Linked DNA regions of Homo sapiens: regions 2, 3 and 4 are each reported to be linked to region 1. Evidence: microRNA targets listed by miRTarBase, many of them from high-throughput screens and not tested one by one. Region 1 holds a microRNA gene; each other region holds the end of a gene's coding sequence. Distances are from middle to middle.
Evidence for each region. The annotated mature microRNA hsa-miR-421 reads AUCAACAGACAUUAAUUGGGCGC and lies in region 1 at 2,056-2,078, opposite strand. An mRNA with a match to its seed (bases 2 to 7 or 8) in the 3' UTR can be bound and repressed. Matches are read on the target gene's strand: a 7mer-m8 pairs with bases 2 to 8, a 7mer-A1 pairs with bases 2 to 7 and ends in A, and an 8mer does both.

Region 2: the mRNA of SLC9A6 is a reported target of hsa-miR-421. The part of its 3' UTR that is shown has no 7-base or 8-base seed match.
Region 3: miRTarBase lists GJB7 as a target of hsa-miR-421. Seed matches in the 3' UTR shown: 7mer-A1 at 3,700-3,706 and 7mer-A1 at 2,738-2,744.
Region 4: the mRNA of NXPE3 is a reported target of hsa-miR-421. Seed matches in the 3' UTR shown: 7mer-A1 at 2,584-2,590.

What each region holds. Positions count from the first base shown.
Region 1 is chrX:74,216,337-74,220,488 of GRCh38, forward strand. It overlaps MIR421 (microRNA 421), which reads right to left and starts at 2,125; the gene lies at 2,041-2,125. All of the region lies in intron 5 of FTX (FTX transcript, XIST regulator), which reads right to left. MIR374B (microRNA 374b) reads right to left here and starts at 2,282; the gene lies at 2,211-2,282. It overlaps MIR374C (microRNA 374c), which reads left to right and starts at 2,213; the gene lies at 2,213-2,282.
Region 2 is chrX:136,044,336-136,048,335 of GRCh38, reverse strand. SLC9A6 (solute carrier family 9 member A6) reads right to left here. Exons shown (of 18, transcript NM_001379110.1): 18 at 1,067-3,884. The coding sequence ends at 3,612. Among named protein-coding and RNA genes, the nearest start is that of SLC9A6, 61 kb to the right of the region's middle.
Region 3 is chr6:87,280,517-87,284,516 of GRCh38, forward strand. It overlaps GJB7 (gap junction protein beta 7), which reads right to left. Exons shown (of 3, transcript NM_198568.3): 3 at 2,464-4,000. The coding sequence ends at 3,725. It overlaps LOC124901356 (a long non-coding RNA gene), which reads left to right and starts at 420. Exons shown (of 2, transcript XR_007059667.1): 1 at 420-1,110.
Region 4 is chr3:101,821,259-101,825,258 of GRCh38, reverse strand. NXPE3 (neurexophilin and PC-esterase domain family member 3) reads right to left here. Exons shown (of 8, transcript NM_145037.4): 8 at 1-3,855. The coding sequence ends at 3,305. Among named protein-coding and RNA genes, the nearest start is that of NFKBIZ, 26 kb to the left of the region's middle.

The DNA of each region.
Region 1 (4,152 bases):
GTGTCAGGCATAGAGCAAATACTCAATAAAAGAAGGAATCACCTGGATCCCCCCACTCTTCTAAGGCTCATCTACTATCCCACTACAGCCTTTCTTCTCTAGTATTTGCAGTTAACATGTGCCAACCTCCAAGTCATTCCTCACAGTCACTGAAGCCTTTTGTACCTGGCCCAGTGTTCATTCTAAGCCTAGCTTCTACTATAATCCTGGGTTACTATAATAGTCATGTAAATGATCATCTGACATCCTAGCTTCACAGGTATCTTAACCACTCCAGTTTTGAAATCTAACACTCCAAAGTCTACTCTGATTACAGGTCCTATCACTCCAGTTTTCCAATTACTCAGCACTCACCTTGTTCACATTAAAGCCTCTTTTTGGCCCAGACTGAGGCCACTCCTGACCTTACTTCCTTCCATGTCCAGGTTGGATTTTTTTTTTTAAATGAAGTCTCACTCTGTTACCCAGGCTGGAGTACAGTGGGTGGGATCTCGGCTCACTGCAACCTCCGCCTCCTGGGTTCAAGTGATTCTCCTGCCTCAGCCTCCTGAGTAGCTGGGATTACAGGCATGTGCCACCACACCTGGCTAATTTTTGCATTTTTAGTAGAGACAGGGTTTCACCATGTTGGTCAGGCTGGTCTCGAACTCCTGACCTCAGGTGACCTGCCCACCTTGGCCTTCCAAAGTGCTGTGATTACAGGTGTGGGCCACCGCGCCCGGCCTTAGTTTGGATTCTTAAATCCATTTCTGTGTAACTCGTCTCTTGCTAGCTGTCCACCCCTCAATCAATCAAGGCAACCAAATACTGCTAGTGACAATGCCCCAAAACCACTTCATATTTTCCTGAGCTTCTAACCCAGTTTCAAACTCATTTCTTACTTTGATATACCATAAGCTCTCCTGTTAATGGTCTCACTCCAGCGTTTTGGCCTGAATATTCCTTAGGGACTCTGGTTCATATTTAGCCCTCTAGTATTTCTGTTCCAGCAGCTTTTGTCTTCATATTCCTGTTCCTGGTCAGCTTCCTCCCCATCATCCACCTCTACAATTACAAATCTTCACCACCCTTGCCAAGTCCTCTTCCTTACTCCTATCCCTATCTCTGTGCTCCAGCAAAGAGGTAGTTCCACTTACCTAAGGCTAACCCTCCACCTGCATGTGTTCTAGAGCCATAAATTTCACCCTTCCAGCTTCACCTGCATCATCTTTCAAGATCATCTTCCATCTATTATCATCTCTCTCTTTCTCACATCTACAATGACTCCCTTCTCAATTCCTTCTGCCCCATGGTCTGCAAACACACTCAATTTTTTTCTCATGTTAAATGATTCACTGTAAGGCGCTGGATAAGTGGTTTTAACTTGTATTCTGGTTGTCACATCTACAATCAGAAAAGCTTCTCACAAAATAATGATTAAGTACAATAAATAAGATAAAGAAAATATGAACCTGGTGAGAGGTGAACAGGACGGTGGAGGATTACCTGTCAGTGCAGGTAAGGGGATAGCTGGAGTAAAGTTGAAAGGGGAAAACTTTAAATATCAGCCACAGGAGCAAACCTCAGACTGTGAGGATGAGGTTTCTGTTCAGACAATGAGCACTCTGGTCCAACCCAGGGAGCAATTAGCAGCAATTACAGTAGCAGCAACAGCCATGCAACATCAGCAAGTAGCTAAGACCAAAATGCAGGCATAGAAATGAAGTATTTCATAGAAAACAGAGTAGCAAATATGACATATGAGGCACTTGTGCTGCTACTCCCCCTTCTCCGACCCTCAGCAGACATCACTAAATAGTTATAAATGTCTTTCACACTGAGATAAGACCTGGTTTCAGAATCTTGTTATAAAACATAATCAGGGCAGGCATTATCAATCAATTGGAGATGGTACTTGAGATGAAGTGTATTTGCTATCATTGCACTACACAGAAAAGTCCTCAACAAAAGAATTAGAAGACAGGAATAAGCTTCAGGAGTAAGCATTCTGAAGAGAGCTTGGACGTTGTTGGCAACTGGCGGGGACAAGCTGAGCCCATGGAGATCACAGAGCAGGCGCCCAATTAATGTCTGTTGATGATTCATTTTTTCATTCAACAAACATTTAATGAGGCCTACAATGTGCACCGGATTAGGCACTGTGAATACAAAGATGAGTAAGGCACTGTCCTTGCCCTTAAGGAATTTAAAGTCTGGTAGACGAGAGCCATAGACACGGACAATGATAATACAACCTGCTAAGTGCTAGGACACTTAGCAGGTTGTATTATATCCATCCGAGTAGGATTTCTTCAGAGGAGCACCACTCCAGGTTGCTGCTGGATCCATGAAGTCCTCCCAGGCACCAGGGTCTGCTGTTGTTTTTGTCACGTGCTGGGTGTCCCAAGATCTAACAATAATAGCTGTAATTAATGTATAGAGTGCCTATGACAAACACTTTACAAATATCTTCATGGAAACTCTGAAAATTAATAGTTATATTAGAGGAAGAAACTGAAGTTCAACAAGTTTAAGTCACACAGCCAGCAAGCAGTTGAATTAGGTTTCAAATCCAGTTTTGACAAAGTCTAATGCATTTTTCTGTTTTCAGGATAACCTTTATGCAGGTGTAATACAACAACTTTTCAACAGCTTTCTATTTGGAACTAAAAGCAAAGGCAATAGATTAGTCACTAGATCATGGAGTGATTAATTTGGTTTCCCACTCTACCTGGCAGAGAAATAAAAGGTGAAATGACCTCACACTTACATACCATTGAAAACCTTCAAGTCAGTTACTGTTTTTCTTTCTCAACCCTAACATCGTCACTGATCATTCAAAATATAAGTACCTCTAGTCAAATCTCTTCTTTTAATACTTGTCATAGTCAACACCATTATCAGCAACAACAGTTGACACAGCATTTAGCTGTATATTCCAGGCCTGTTCTAAGCAATTTACATAATTAGTCCCTTTAAGTACTTTTTACCCCCATCATTGAAAATAAATATTATTCCTATTTTACATAAGAGAAAACAGAGTCCTGGGGAAGTGAAGAATCATGCTCAAGACCACATTGCTAAGTGTGAGAGCAGATTTGAGCCCAGGCTACCTGGTCCCAAGACCCAAACTCTCACTTTACATAGCTCTGCTGCACTGCTCAGGGCCTCCTTTCCCAACTCTTGATGGCAAGTTACACAAGGCCCCCTGAAAAACCCAGTCCTACTTACATAAAATCTCATCACTAACCATTCTGGTCATAGAAAGCCATTCTCTAAATCCCAAATATCAATACTCAGAGCCTTAATTGGAAAATTTCCCGAAGAACATTGAGTTTAGAATATACCTTTGCAAAAAGAGAAAATAAACACTCGATATGTTTAGGTTTTTAATTATTGAATTTTTTTTTTACTTGCAGATATAGTCATAAACGTTTTAAGATCCATAAGCAAACTAAAGCAATTATGCCAATAATGACTAAGGCCACTGCTTCCTCAATTGAGTCTTTGATATAAAAGCCTTCACTTTTGGTTAATTACAAAAAAAAAAAAAAAAAAAAAAAAAAAAACCGTGGGAGATATGTGACAGTGAGAGTAGGCCTGCTACTGATGAGAAGGACCAGCAACTTAGCAACACCATAAAATGTCTGCTGCAATTCAGGTGTCTAGGTGTCTCCCTGAGAATCAACATTTCATATACAGCTGTTCCCAGAAAACAATCTTGCACAATCTGTACAGTCAAGTTATGATCTAAAAGGAGTTAATTGCAACATTCATCCAAAGAATATGACAGTATTTTTCATCAAGGTCTTTTTCTATAAGTTTTTCTATAACTTTTCCTATAAGTTCTATTATGTCTATACAGTCATGTGCTGCCTAACAATGTTTAGGACAATGATGAACCTCATATATGACAGTTGTCCCACAGTTGTCCCACCACAAAATCATATCATATTTTTACTGTAGCTTTTCTATGTTTATATATGTTTAGGTACACAAATACTTACCATTCTGTTATAATTGCCTACAGTATTCAGTACAGTCATATGCTGTACAGGTTTGTAGCCTAGGTGTGTAATAGGCTATACCATTTAGAGAGGTTTGTGTTAATATACTCTATGAAGTTCACATGACAAAATCGCCTAACAATACACTTCTCAGAACATATCCCCA
Region 2 (4,000 bases), 62 Mb from region 1:
AATGCGAGGACCCTCCCAACCAGGGAACGCCAACAAGACAGCCAAGAACACAGCAGCAAGTGGAGGCACAGAGCTGAGACTTCATGCCTTAGCCTGGCCTGATGACAAGCAGGTCGGGGGCAGCAGGCTAGAAAGCAATTCTGCAATTCCCTTCATCCTTCTGGTTACAATCAGGATGAATCAGCAGAGCCTGCCTTTGGGGCCAGCAAAATAGTAAGCATCTGGGCTTTGGAGTCAGACTTGACTTGGGTCCTGACTCTGCCACTTACTCGCTGTGTGACTTCTCTGCACCTCAGTTTCATCTGTATACTGAGGATGATAGAATGTGCCCTCAATGCATGATTATAGATTTTAAAATGCCTTGTATACACATGACCAGTACCCAAGAAGGGCTCAAAAATGAGAACTATTATTATCATTTCCAATTTATTTTCAAGCCTCACACTACATCATCTGTGTGGCGTACGTCCTGTCGGGGACTCTCATCTCATTATACTCCTGCATTGGGTCAGGTTAACAACTGTACCTGCTCAGATCTAATGTAGGGTTTTGTGTAGGGAATTAGAAAACATGGGTTCCTTCAAGAAAAGAGCCTGTTGTGTGTGGACCATCCCCCACCAATGTCTCTCACTGGGCCATAAACAAGGAAGCTGGAGTGGATGACAAGAAAACACAACAGACAGTGTGGTTGGTGCCATTGCTGGACTAGACAAACTTGCAGTCAGCAGACTCTAGCCTATAAAACTTCTCATGCACAGAGAGACGTGTCTTTAACTTGGAAGGAGGACTATTTGTATTTGTGTGATCATGCTTTTAGCCAAACTTGGAACTGCCTTCCTACCTAACTGGATATACTTGGAACTGCCTTCCCACCTAACTGGATATAGAATTCTCTTTCCCCATACCAGCATTTTTATAACATTATCCATTACTAAGCTAACAGGCTACAAATCAATGTAATAGAATTTGACAGCTTTGAGTCATATTTCCTAAAGAGTCCAATTGTGACCATAAGCAAATACATCCACCCTTACACATAAGCACCAAAAATTTGCCAACCCATAAGTTAAGTTCTGTTAGGTTTCTGTTTGTTTATTTGAAAACATTAGTCTTCCCCTTTTCCACTAGGTATATAGGTAGAAAAATAAATGAAGTCAGCACTCTTTACGTCTCACTAAAATAAACTGTGACTCAAATACTGTGAGTGGTTATTTGCAAGGCTATAACTTTTTTAATGACAGATTTTCCTAAAAGAAACCACTATAACATCTGTCCAAGTACTCCAGAGAAAACAAAAAATACATAAAGATTAAAAGTCTATTACTTTAACAGCACATTGCCAAACACGGACAACTAGGATAAATGCCAAGAAACCTTAAAAAATAACTTTAAAAGATGCAACGTTCAAGCCATTCAAACGCGTAGGTTCCACAAACAACAGGAAAACAAGTCCAAGAGCAGTTCTACTTGTGCATGATGGTAACTCAGACTGTACTTCATCAAAGTTCATTCAGGTGTTTCATAGGCGTCTGAGCAGAGTTTGTTTTTTCTTCCTTGCTTGGAGATGTGTACACAGATTAGAGGAGAGGAAAGTCTTCCAGATGCTGATGTAAGCACAGCAGGCTTGGTTCCCCTTGATAAAGTATGAAGGCAGATTTAGTTGACTCAAGCTTTATCAGTTTCCCTAGTGAAAAGTCTTATGCATGCTGAAATAGACGAGTTACTGAATTTGTCATGCGAAGTATTTACATAAAGTGAGGTCAGTAACCCGACAGAATAAAAAAGGTAGTTGTTAAATTATTGTATAACCTTTTACAACTTGAATAACTTTGTGGGTAAGTGACACTGACGTTCAAACTCCTCAAACATACATTAACAAGAAACTATTTACTGCGTGAAGAGGCACACATCATGTAAAACATACACGTCATGGGAGGGATTCCTGCATAGCAGGAAAGTCGCTACCACTACATAACAAATGGCTATGCCAACAGTCAAAGCTGCCACGAAAGGGTACAACATTAGAATTCCCCTAAAATCTCAAGGAGTGTTTGCAATAGCACAGATAGATGCCTTTCGGAGAGTAAGTACATGTTTTGTTCAGAAGGGTATTTTTCACTGGAAAATCTGAACATCATGTAAATAAATCAATGTTCTAACTGGATAAGATTTAAGGCAATGCTACTCAGACCTGAGGGAAAAAAAATCCAAAAAAGTTTGTTTTTCTTCTGAATCATGAACAGGTCAAAATCAACATCAAAAAGCATTCTTCCAAGCATTCAATGCATCTTTAGGTATTATCAGCATTACAAAATAGAATCTACTTTCATACTCCAAATATGAAATGAGAAATTGTTCTGTGCTCTTCCTTGAGAACTGTAAAAAAAAAAATGCATGGCAGCTTAGGTAATTAATATTAAAACGTACCATGAAAATGAAGACTACTACACCTGCTGCACACAAAGGAGCCACCCTGCTGCAATCAGTGCTCCAGAATATTCGATTTCTCTTATGACTGACTTTGGTGCAGTGTGGAACGATCGTGGGTTCATAAATTAACTGTTGACATTAACTACAGACTAACAAATGATGATTAGACACAGTAAGTTCAAAAATTTTACATTTTGCTCCTGTTTGGCTGCTAAAGAGCAGCAATTTAAATCGATATAAAAACTTCTGACGACAAAGCCTGCTATACAGATAAAGTACATAATCAAAAATTAAGCAGCAATTAAATTTCTTATTTAAACTTATCTGGTATAGAATATTTACACATTTGGGAAGAGAGATCTCTGAAACCACCATTCTCTTTACTCGCCTCTTGCTCTCTGCCCACCCCAGCCCCTCCAAATCTAAATCAAGTGCCCTGAACTATATACACCTGTACTTTGGCTAAGCCGGCTAGATGTGACTCCTTCTACGGTCTTGGTCTGGAAGAAAAGACATAAAGTCTCAGAAGTCATTTGCAGCCTTCTTTTCTGAACAACAGTGTACTGTAGTCAATGAATCTGTGCTTTCACAGCAAGCGGGGGAAAAGGGTCCTCACACTTCACTCCCCAACCTGAATGGGGCAAGATCAAATGCCATCAGCTCGTTGCACCACAACAGGCCACCAGAGAAAAGGGAAAGAAAACGATCAGGACAAAGGCAGCAGCTATCAACAAAAGTTTCCCAACAAAGGAACCTCTCCTCCCTAGGTTCCCAAGGAAATAACACTCCCTCCTCACTCTCCCTCCCCTAGCACACAAAAAAATTAATTCACATCACGAGAACTGGTACTCTGGTTAAGTGTCAGGTAAGTTTAAGAAAGAGAAAATCCGTCACTTTTTACACTTTAACTGAGACATAAAACTAACAGAACACACAACATCACTGTGAAAGTAACTTCCTAAAACAGATCCAGTCTACAGAGTGCAACCAGGAAAACTTAAAGGAATATAGTTTGTTCACAATCTGCCGTGTACAGGATATTTATATTCTTTCTATGCCATATAAATAGCATTTATATAGCTTACACATTCAGAGACATGCACTGGGACTTTTAGGTAGTACAAATTTCTTCACAATCACATGTGCAAATTTTACAAATCACTAAGTGAGTATTAGTAAGCTTAGGCTGGACCATGTCTCGTATTATCTAACAAATTTAGCGGGGGTTCAGAATCATCCATTGGAAGAACCAGGCGTGTTCCTCGAATGACCAGTTCATGGTCCCCAAATGCAAGCTCCCGATCCAAGGCATCTTCAGAACTGTTTCCCATAAATCTCCTTGGGGCGCTGGATGTGGCCGGTTCAGTGTTCACAGTAGAATCTCCATATGTCAAACTGATGTCACCATCATTGAGAATAAGATCAGAATCATCATCTTTCAACTGTTCCTGGTTCTAAATGCAAATAAAGTAAGATTTAAGAATTTTTGAGAAGTTCAAGAGACATTTCCAATAGGAGTATTTTCGAGGATCCCCCATTAAAACCCTTAAGTGGTAGCCCACTGCCCTCA
Region 3 (4,000 bases), not on the chromosome of region 1:
TTTTGTCATAAAAATTCAATTGAATTCTGACATGTTTTGCCTCTACGTGCTCCACCACTGCTTCTTTCTTTCCTCATTAGTTTTTTTGTTTTGTTTAATACAGGGTCTTGTCCAGGCGTGGTGGCTCAGGCCTGTAATGCCAGCACTTTGGGAGGCTGAGGCGGGTGGATCACCTGAGGTCAGGAGTTCGAGACCAGCCTGGCCAACATGGCAAACCCCGTCTCTACTAAAAATACAAAAGTTAGCCGGGTATGTTGGTGGGCATCTATAATCCTGGCTACTCGAGAGGCTGAGGCAGGAGAATTGCTTGAACCTGGGAGACGGAGGTTGCAGTGAGCTGAGATCATGCCACTGCACTTCACTCTGGGGGACAGAGCAAGACTACATTTCGAAAAAAAAAAAAAAAAAAAAAAGACGGGGTCTTGCTCTGTCACCCAGGCTGGATGCAGTGGCGCGATCATAGCCCACCTCAAGTTTGAATTCCTAAACTCAAGGGATCCTCCTGCCTTGGCCTCCCAAAGTTCTGGAAATACAGGCATGAGCCACTGCACTTGCCCTCTAATCAGTCTTTTAAAGAGCTATGAAGTGCTCCTCACTTTTGTGCTCTGTGCAGTGTTAAATATACAAACAAAATAAACTAGGAATAAATCGACATCAGTGTTTAAGAAAAGTGTTACATGTATGTGATGGGATATGAGCTAGAATAAGGAGAGGCAGGGCACTATAGGCTTTTAAATTATTAAAATTTTGTATTATACAGGAAAGAAAGTTATGAAGAAGGTGGCTTTATTGGGACTCTCAGTTACAAGACACAGAAATCCAACTTGAACCAGCTTAAGCAAAAAGGAATTTATCTTTCATGTAACTAACCACCGAAAGATTAGGGGTAGAGCCAGACTCAGGGACAATGGGATTGAGGAGTTCAAACATCCTCAAGTCTTTGCCTTTTTCCCTCTCCTCTCTCATCTTCACAGTCTTTTTTCTAGATTGGCTTCATTCCACTGGGAAGACTGGAACCACAGCCACTTAGAGCTCTGGGCATTCTTTTGTACAAGTGCTTGAAAACATTTCCTGCCAGCTCTAATGAGAACTCCTGTGGCCAGGAACAAGGTCTGTAACTAGAAAGAGTATGGGACAAGTGCAGAGCAGTCGGAATAATCACTGCAAGCTGGGAGTGGCTTAAATGAAATTAGGGAGACCTCTGTTTAGTGATCTGGGAAGACCTATGGTTGATTGTTCAGTCTGCCTGTACTAGTTGCATGTCCCTGAAGAAAAGTGACTGCTTTTTCCCCATCTCCAAGGTTACTGTCTGCTCTGTGGACACCAGAAGGTTTCGGAGTAGAACAGTTGAGGTGGGCCAGTGAGACCAGGACACAGGTTTAAGATACTTCACCCTCCATGAGCCTTAACAGAAGTGGACATTTTCTTGAGCAGGAATTATGCATTAAATCTTGGGATGTACATAGCACAGTGTCTTGCTCCCAGGTGCTCAATCAATATTAATTTACCAATAAGAGAAACAATATGGTACAAATTAACTGCCAATTTCTCTCAATCAAATACTTTGGGTCCTCACTGACCCCAAGAAAGCCATCAGAATGTTCTCATAGGAAACTCACTTTGTAAATTAAGGCACTACCAGCAAGACTCAAGGAACGAAAATCACTCACCTTCCTATTTAAACATCTTCAATGCCATTGCCCTTGCTCACATTACCTTTCAGTTTCTTCTATACAAAGTGGAAATGCAAAGAATATATGGCCAAGCAGTTGGACTTTTTTGCTTAGGCAGAACTTGCCATAACTGATATGAAGAGGATGAGCTCCCCCAAAACATTTTTGGCATCAAACTCTTCCTCAGACTGACAAAGCCCCTTATTTCCATTCCAGTTCTGCATTCTGAAACCCTGTTTTCTAGATTCTGTGCTGTGATCAGGGTCTCAAAAACCTTAAATTTTTTTTAACCATCTATTATTGTCACACATACACACACAAAATTCATGATTACCTGCATTCATGCAGGCTAGATGTTTTCATATTCAATGATAAAGTACATGTTTGTAAGCTCAAGTCCAGCAGTGATCTGTGGTATAAATTGAAGAAAGGGGTAAACCACAAATTTCACCTCTCTCTCTGTTGTCTAGAACACAGTCTTTAAGATAGAAATAATGACCGCTGCTGCTGACATGGTCTGTAGACCACGTAATGACCCAAATAACCTTCATTGCGCATGACTTGTAATGAGATTATATTCTAAAGAGGGCAAGGTATGGAAGACATAATTGGTTTTTGTTAAAATTACATTTTTATGCCCTGATTTTCTGTTAAATTCTTGAGGGAGAAGAATAATTTCTTAGCCAAGCAGTGTTGCAAATCCTGTTCTAAAGTTGTCAGAACATGTTTTATTTCACATAGTAATCATACCTACTGCAGTCTAGCAAAGATACCAATGACAGCCAAAGAGCATTGTGAAATACCCTTATTTTTATTCTGAAGAAATGTACATATGTTAAAGTACTAAATCCAAAGAGAACATATCTGTGAATTGCTAAGAAAATATAGAAAAGTAAAGAAAGTTCTAGTCTTCAAAACAAGTGATAAACTTTTAAAACATTTTTGCACCACTGTAACAACATAGTACACATTTTACTATCTGTCCTAGAGGGAGATATACTAGTAAATTATAGGCGAACTATGACTTACAGTATAGTACATAGTGAATTCCTGATTATGAAAGGTTCAACAATATGAATATTTACAAAGTATTTCAATGTTCTTTTGGTTAAATAGAAGTCTTAAGTAATTATCAAGTGGGCACATTCTTTTTCTGTGGCCTCCACTTCCTATCAATGTGTTGCCTTCTGGGGGACCTGCTTTCCTTTCTGACTCTAGAGTGACCCTTTCGGATGTCTGCTGGTTCAGGCTTAAGTGGGATACCTCCCAGTAATATTTCTACTTGATTTGGAGACCACTGAAATGATAGCTTTCCTCCCTCTCCTCTAATCCACTTATATCCAAGGATCCCTGAATCGGCAAGAGGCCTGGGCTCTGTGGCCTTTTCCCTAGGCGGGACCTTCCTGTTGAATGTTCCTCTGTGTGTCCCCAGCTGGCTGCTATCCTATCCCACAGTTTTTCCCTGCAGAGATTGAGTAGGACAGGGAGTGGGGCCTTGGCTGCCACTTTGGAAAGATTGCCAGTTCCTTCATTTCAGCTCGGAGGCCATCACATTTGCCTAAAGTGTCACTTTTTATATTTTCCAGTTCATTGTGCACCAATTGTAATGAGATAGTTAGAAAAAACAGAAAACTGACACAGGGTTTCTTTTTTTTTTTTTTTCCCTGAAAAATCTAAGCTCTTAAAAGAATCCTGTTAGATTTCTTCAGACTAATTTGCAATTACCTATTCTAAAACAACTAATGTTATCCACATACTGGAGAACCCTACAACAAAACAATGAGACCTCTGTCTAGAGCTCATAACTGAAAGCATATTGACAATGTAAAAAAATTCCTCCCAAATGATACTAAGGCTGATGTGCTTTGTCTTCCAACTCAGCTTAGGCCTTGCTGAGGAGGGATGCAGGTTTTCTTTGTTTAACCCTCTTGTGTGTCACAGAGTAGCTTTGCTTCAGGTAGAGGGAGTGTGTTTATGGCCAAGTGTGAAGATTCTGGAGTAGGGGAGGGGTCCCTCTCCTACCACATTCAACATATCTGAGGCTGTGGCACTCACACACTGAGGACTTGAGGTTTTTTTAAATATTTTTGGAGACAGCACTTAATAAAGCACTTGAGAACCAAAAAACTCAGTTCAATGAAATTCAACACAATACACAAGCATGAGGTGATGACCAAGAAGAGGATGAAGATCGTCTTCTCAGTGGGTTTGGAGATGAAGCAGTCCACAGTGTTGGGACAAGGCTTCAAATCACACTTTATAAGGTAGGGAACACTAAAGCCATCATATAGCTTATAAAATAAAACAAGGAAGCCAATTTCAAAACC
Region 4 (4,000 bases), not on the chromosome of region 1:
GGGATGAAAGTTGTTCTCACTGATAAGTGAGAGCTAAATGATGAGAACACATGGACACATAAAGGGCAACAACACACACTGGGGTCTATTGGAGGGTGGAGGGTAGGAGGAGGGAGAGGATCAGGAAAAATTACTAATGGGTACTAGGCTTAACACCTGGGTGATGAAATCATCTATACAACAAACCCCCATGACGTAAGTTTACCTATGAAACAAACTGGCACATGTACCCCTGAACTTAAAAGTTGTTAAAAAAAAAATTTTTTTAAGAGAGATGAAAGTGACTCAAGAAGCTGTGTCACCAAATCTTTGAGAGCTATGTCACCAAATCAAAAAATAACAGAAAACCAGACAAGATCATAAGAAATCATTTGCACAATCAAGTGGCATCATTCCAAACCACTGGAGGAGCAATGCCCGCTTTCTTTTTAAAATTCTCCTGGGAAAATTACTCCTCAGCCTCCTTTATAAATCCTTGAGGAAATGTCAAGTTCTTTCACGACAAGAAAAACTCTCAGCTGGGCACAGTGGCTCACACCTGTAATCCCAGCACTTTGGGAAGCTGAGGTGGGCAGATGCTTGAGCTCAGGAGTTTAAGACCAGCCTGGACAACATGGCAAAATGTAGTCTCTACAAAAAGATACAAAAATTAGCTGGGCATGGTGGTACATACCTGTAGTCCCAGCTACTCAGGAGGCTGAGGCAGAAGGATCCCTTGAGCCCAGGAAGTCAAGGCTGCAGTGAGCCATATCATGCCACTGCACTCCAGCCTGGGCAAAAGAGCAAGACCCTGTCTCAAAAACAAATAAATAAATACAAACGCTTCTTTACGAAAGTCTCACAAGTTTAGCTGAAAAGAGATATGGACTCTCACATACCTTATTTCAGATCTAAACATGAGTTCCTCATCTATAAAATGGAGCTAATATCACCAATACTATTGGATCATGAACAGAATTAAACCAGTTATTGGTAAATCCCCCAAAATAATAAACAAGCCATGTTTATTCCCTCATTCTATCTTACCTCTTCTCTTAGTGTTTCTCACAGTGTGGAATACCACCATTGCATCAGAATCACTGAGCACTCGCCACAAAGGTTGGTTTCATAAATCCCAGAGGCATCATGGTCCCTCTTTTTTTTTTTTTTTTTTTTTTAGAGACAGGGTCTTGCCCTGTTGCCCAGACTGGAGTACAGTGGCACAATCAAGGCTCACTGCAACCTCTGCAACCTTCTGCCTCCTGGGCTCAAGCAATCCTCCCACCTCAGCCTCCTAAGTAGCGGGGACTACAGGTGGTGCCACCACACCCAGCTAGTTTTTGTATTTTTTTGTAGAGATGGGGTTTCACCATGGCACCCAGGCTGGTCTTGACCTTCCGGGCTCAAGCAATCCGCCCACCTCAGCCTCCCGAGACTATAATCCCTGCTGGGATTACAGATGTGAGCCAACATCCCTGGCCTTAATTCTTTTATTATTTAACAAAAATTTTTTAGAGATAAGATCTCTTGTCTGTTGCCCAAGTGGGAGTGTAGTGGCGCAATCATAACTCACTGCAGCCTCAAACTACTGGGCTCAATCAATCACCCTGCCTTAGCCTCCCTAGTAGCTGGGACTGTCGGCCCACACCTGGATAATTTTTTATTTTTTGTAGAGATGAGGTCTTACTATGTTGCCCAGGCTGGTCTCAAACTCCTGGCCTCAAGCAATCCTCCTGCCTGGCCTCCCAAAGTGCTGGGATTACAGGCTTGAGCTACCACACCCTGCCATGACTCTTTAATTCTGCATTTTTGTCAGATACTACAAGTGATCCTTAGGTACTGTAAAGCGTAAGGACCATTAAAATTAAACTATTTTAATATATTTTATTACCTCATTAGGCTCAGAAACAATTAAAAATCTTCTTTCCCCCTAAAATACTTTAAAAACTTGAAGGTGTTCCTCAAGGACAGGAAAGTAAGATCTGGGGCCCTCCTATTTTAAATTAAAAACCCAAATTATTTGACCCATTCTTCTAAGGGTATATATTGTTCATACTTCAAGCATCTGTCTTCCTCTCTAAAGCCTCCCTAGTTTCTTCATCTGTCTACTTAGGAGCAACTTAAACTAGACTATAATCTATCACAGCTCAAAAAGAAAAGAGTACTTACTAAATGATCCCAAATTAAACTCGTTTAAAATTAATAAGTCAAATAAAATTAATAATTCCATTCTTCTTAGATAGCCAGTAGGAATAGCAGCTTCTTCCAAGCATGAGAGAATGGGTGTGCCTTTTATGCCCAAATCAAGAAATACCAAAAAACAAACAAACAAACAAACAAAAAACTGTCATGAATTTTAGTATCTTATTAATTTCTAATTAGATTTTAACTTCTAATTTTGGTAAGTAGTTCAAAATAACAACAACAACAACAAAAAAAAAAACACCTGAAACTAGTGGAAAAAACTTCCACAGCTTTATAATATCGTAGCATTCTTTACACAAAAGTCAATTCCTAAACCCTCAAATTTCAGAACATAAAAATAAATTTCCATTTACAGATTTCCCCCTTCCAGTTCCAAAAGTAGTTATTCTAGAGTAAGTATTCAACACATAAAATTTAGCTGAATCAAATAAAAAACAATCACCAAATGCAAATATCAATTCCAAAGCACAGATTTTATATATACTGCTTTCATATTTCCCTTTTGCTTCTTTTCTAGATAAAAGCAGGAAATTGTAAATATTCACTAAAAAACTCGAACCAAGCACATTGGCCTTTTCAAGTAATTCAGAAAAGGTAGATCATCAAGAGAAACTCCTGAGACACAGCAGTCTTCAGTGCATTCACAAGAGCCTCTGACTATAAGCTTTCTCTAGTTAACCGCCAGAAGATGGATTACTTGTGCTATGCATGCAGATGCACTCAATTTCCTTTACCAGATAAGCTACAAACACTCTACTACCAACCAAACTTGTCCCTTCCATCAAAACATTTTTCATACTCTTTAGCAAAGTAGTCACCCCTCCTAGGAGAAGCTAATTCAAATACACTCATTAGCATCTTTGGTTACAAGAGCAATATAGTGTGTAGATGCAGTTAAGAGTTCTACCATGGCTAAGTCAACATTGGATAAAATCCTATAGGTAGATATAAATGTAACCTGCATTTTCTAAGCTCCTTATAAGTCATCATATTAAGTCCAGATCTTTTTGAAATTTTATACTTATTAAGGGCAGTCATCTCTCACTGGGGCCACTTTCTGTAACTCAGGTCAATTGAGAAGGTCATTGAATATGATTCCTCCAGTCCCTTCCAAGACAGGCTAGGTTTCCAAGGGGCACACAAAGGACAAGAACATGTCCAGCTGGTTCTTCACAATAACTTCATCTGGATGCAGCTTGTGCGGTAGATAATGGGCCAGGGTCATCTCCCAGGCATCGACGAGATATACTCCAACCCCTGAGAACATCCTCCGAAGGATGGTGTCCAGCTGAAAGTTGTACCAGTCGCTGTTGAAAAGGCTCACCTCAGGTCCCAGCTCTTGGGCGTTGGCCGTCCGGATGACCACCACGGTCTTTGGGCTTCGATCGAGGAGCCGAACCACTGCTCGACGGATGTTCCTGAGCCGCCGGATGTACACTTCCAAAGGGAAGGTGCTGAAGTGAGACCATACAGCTATGGCAACCACTGTGTTCTTCCCTCCCACAATGCCATTCAGCTCATTCGCCACATAATGGAGCTCATTGCTAAAGACAGTCGTGAAGCGGATGGGTGGACCATGGCAGCGGTATTTGAGCAGGATGTTGTGCTTCTGGTCCACTGCAAGGAAGGGACCCACATTCTTGGGACTACCCAAGTTAAACTCCACTAAATCTGAAACAAGGAAAACTCAAGTTCATAAAAACCTTCAAACCAAGCACATATATTTTGATTATACCTTATTAAGTGGCTTCAAATAACAATTTTTTTTTAAGTACAACAAAAAGGTACAATATAAATGTAAAGGGAATACCTATTT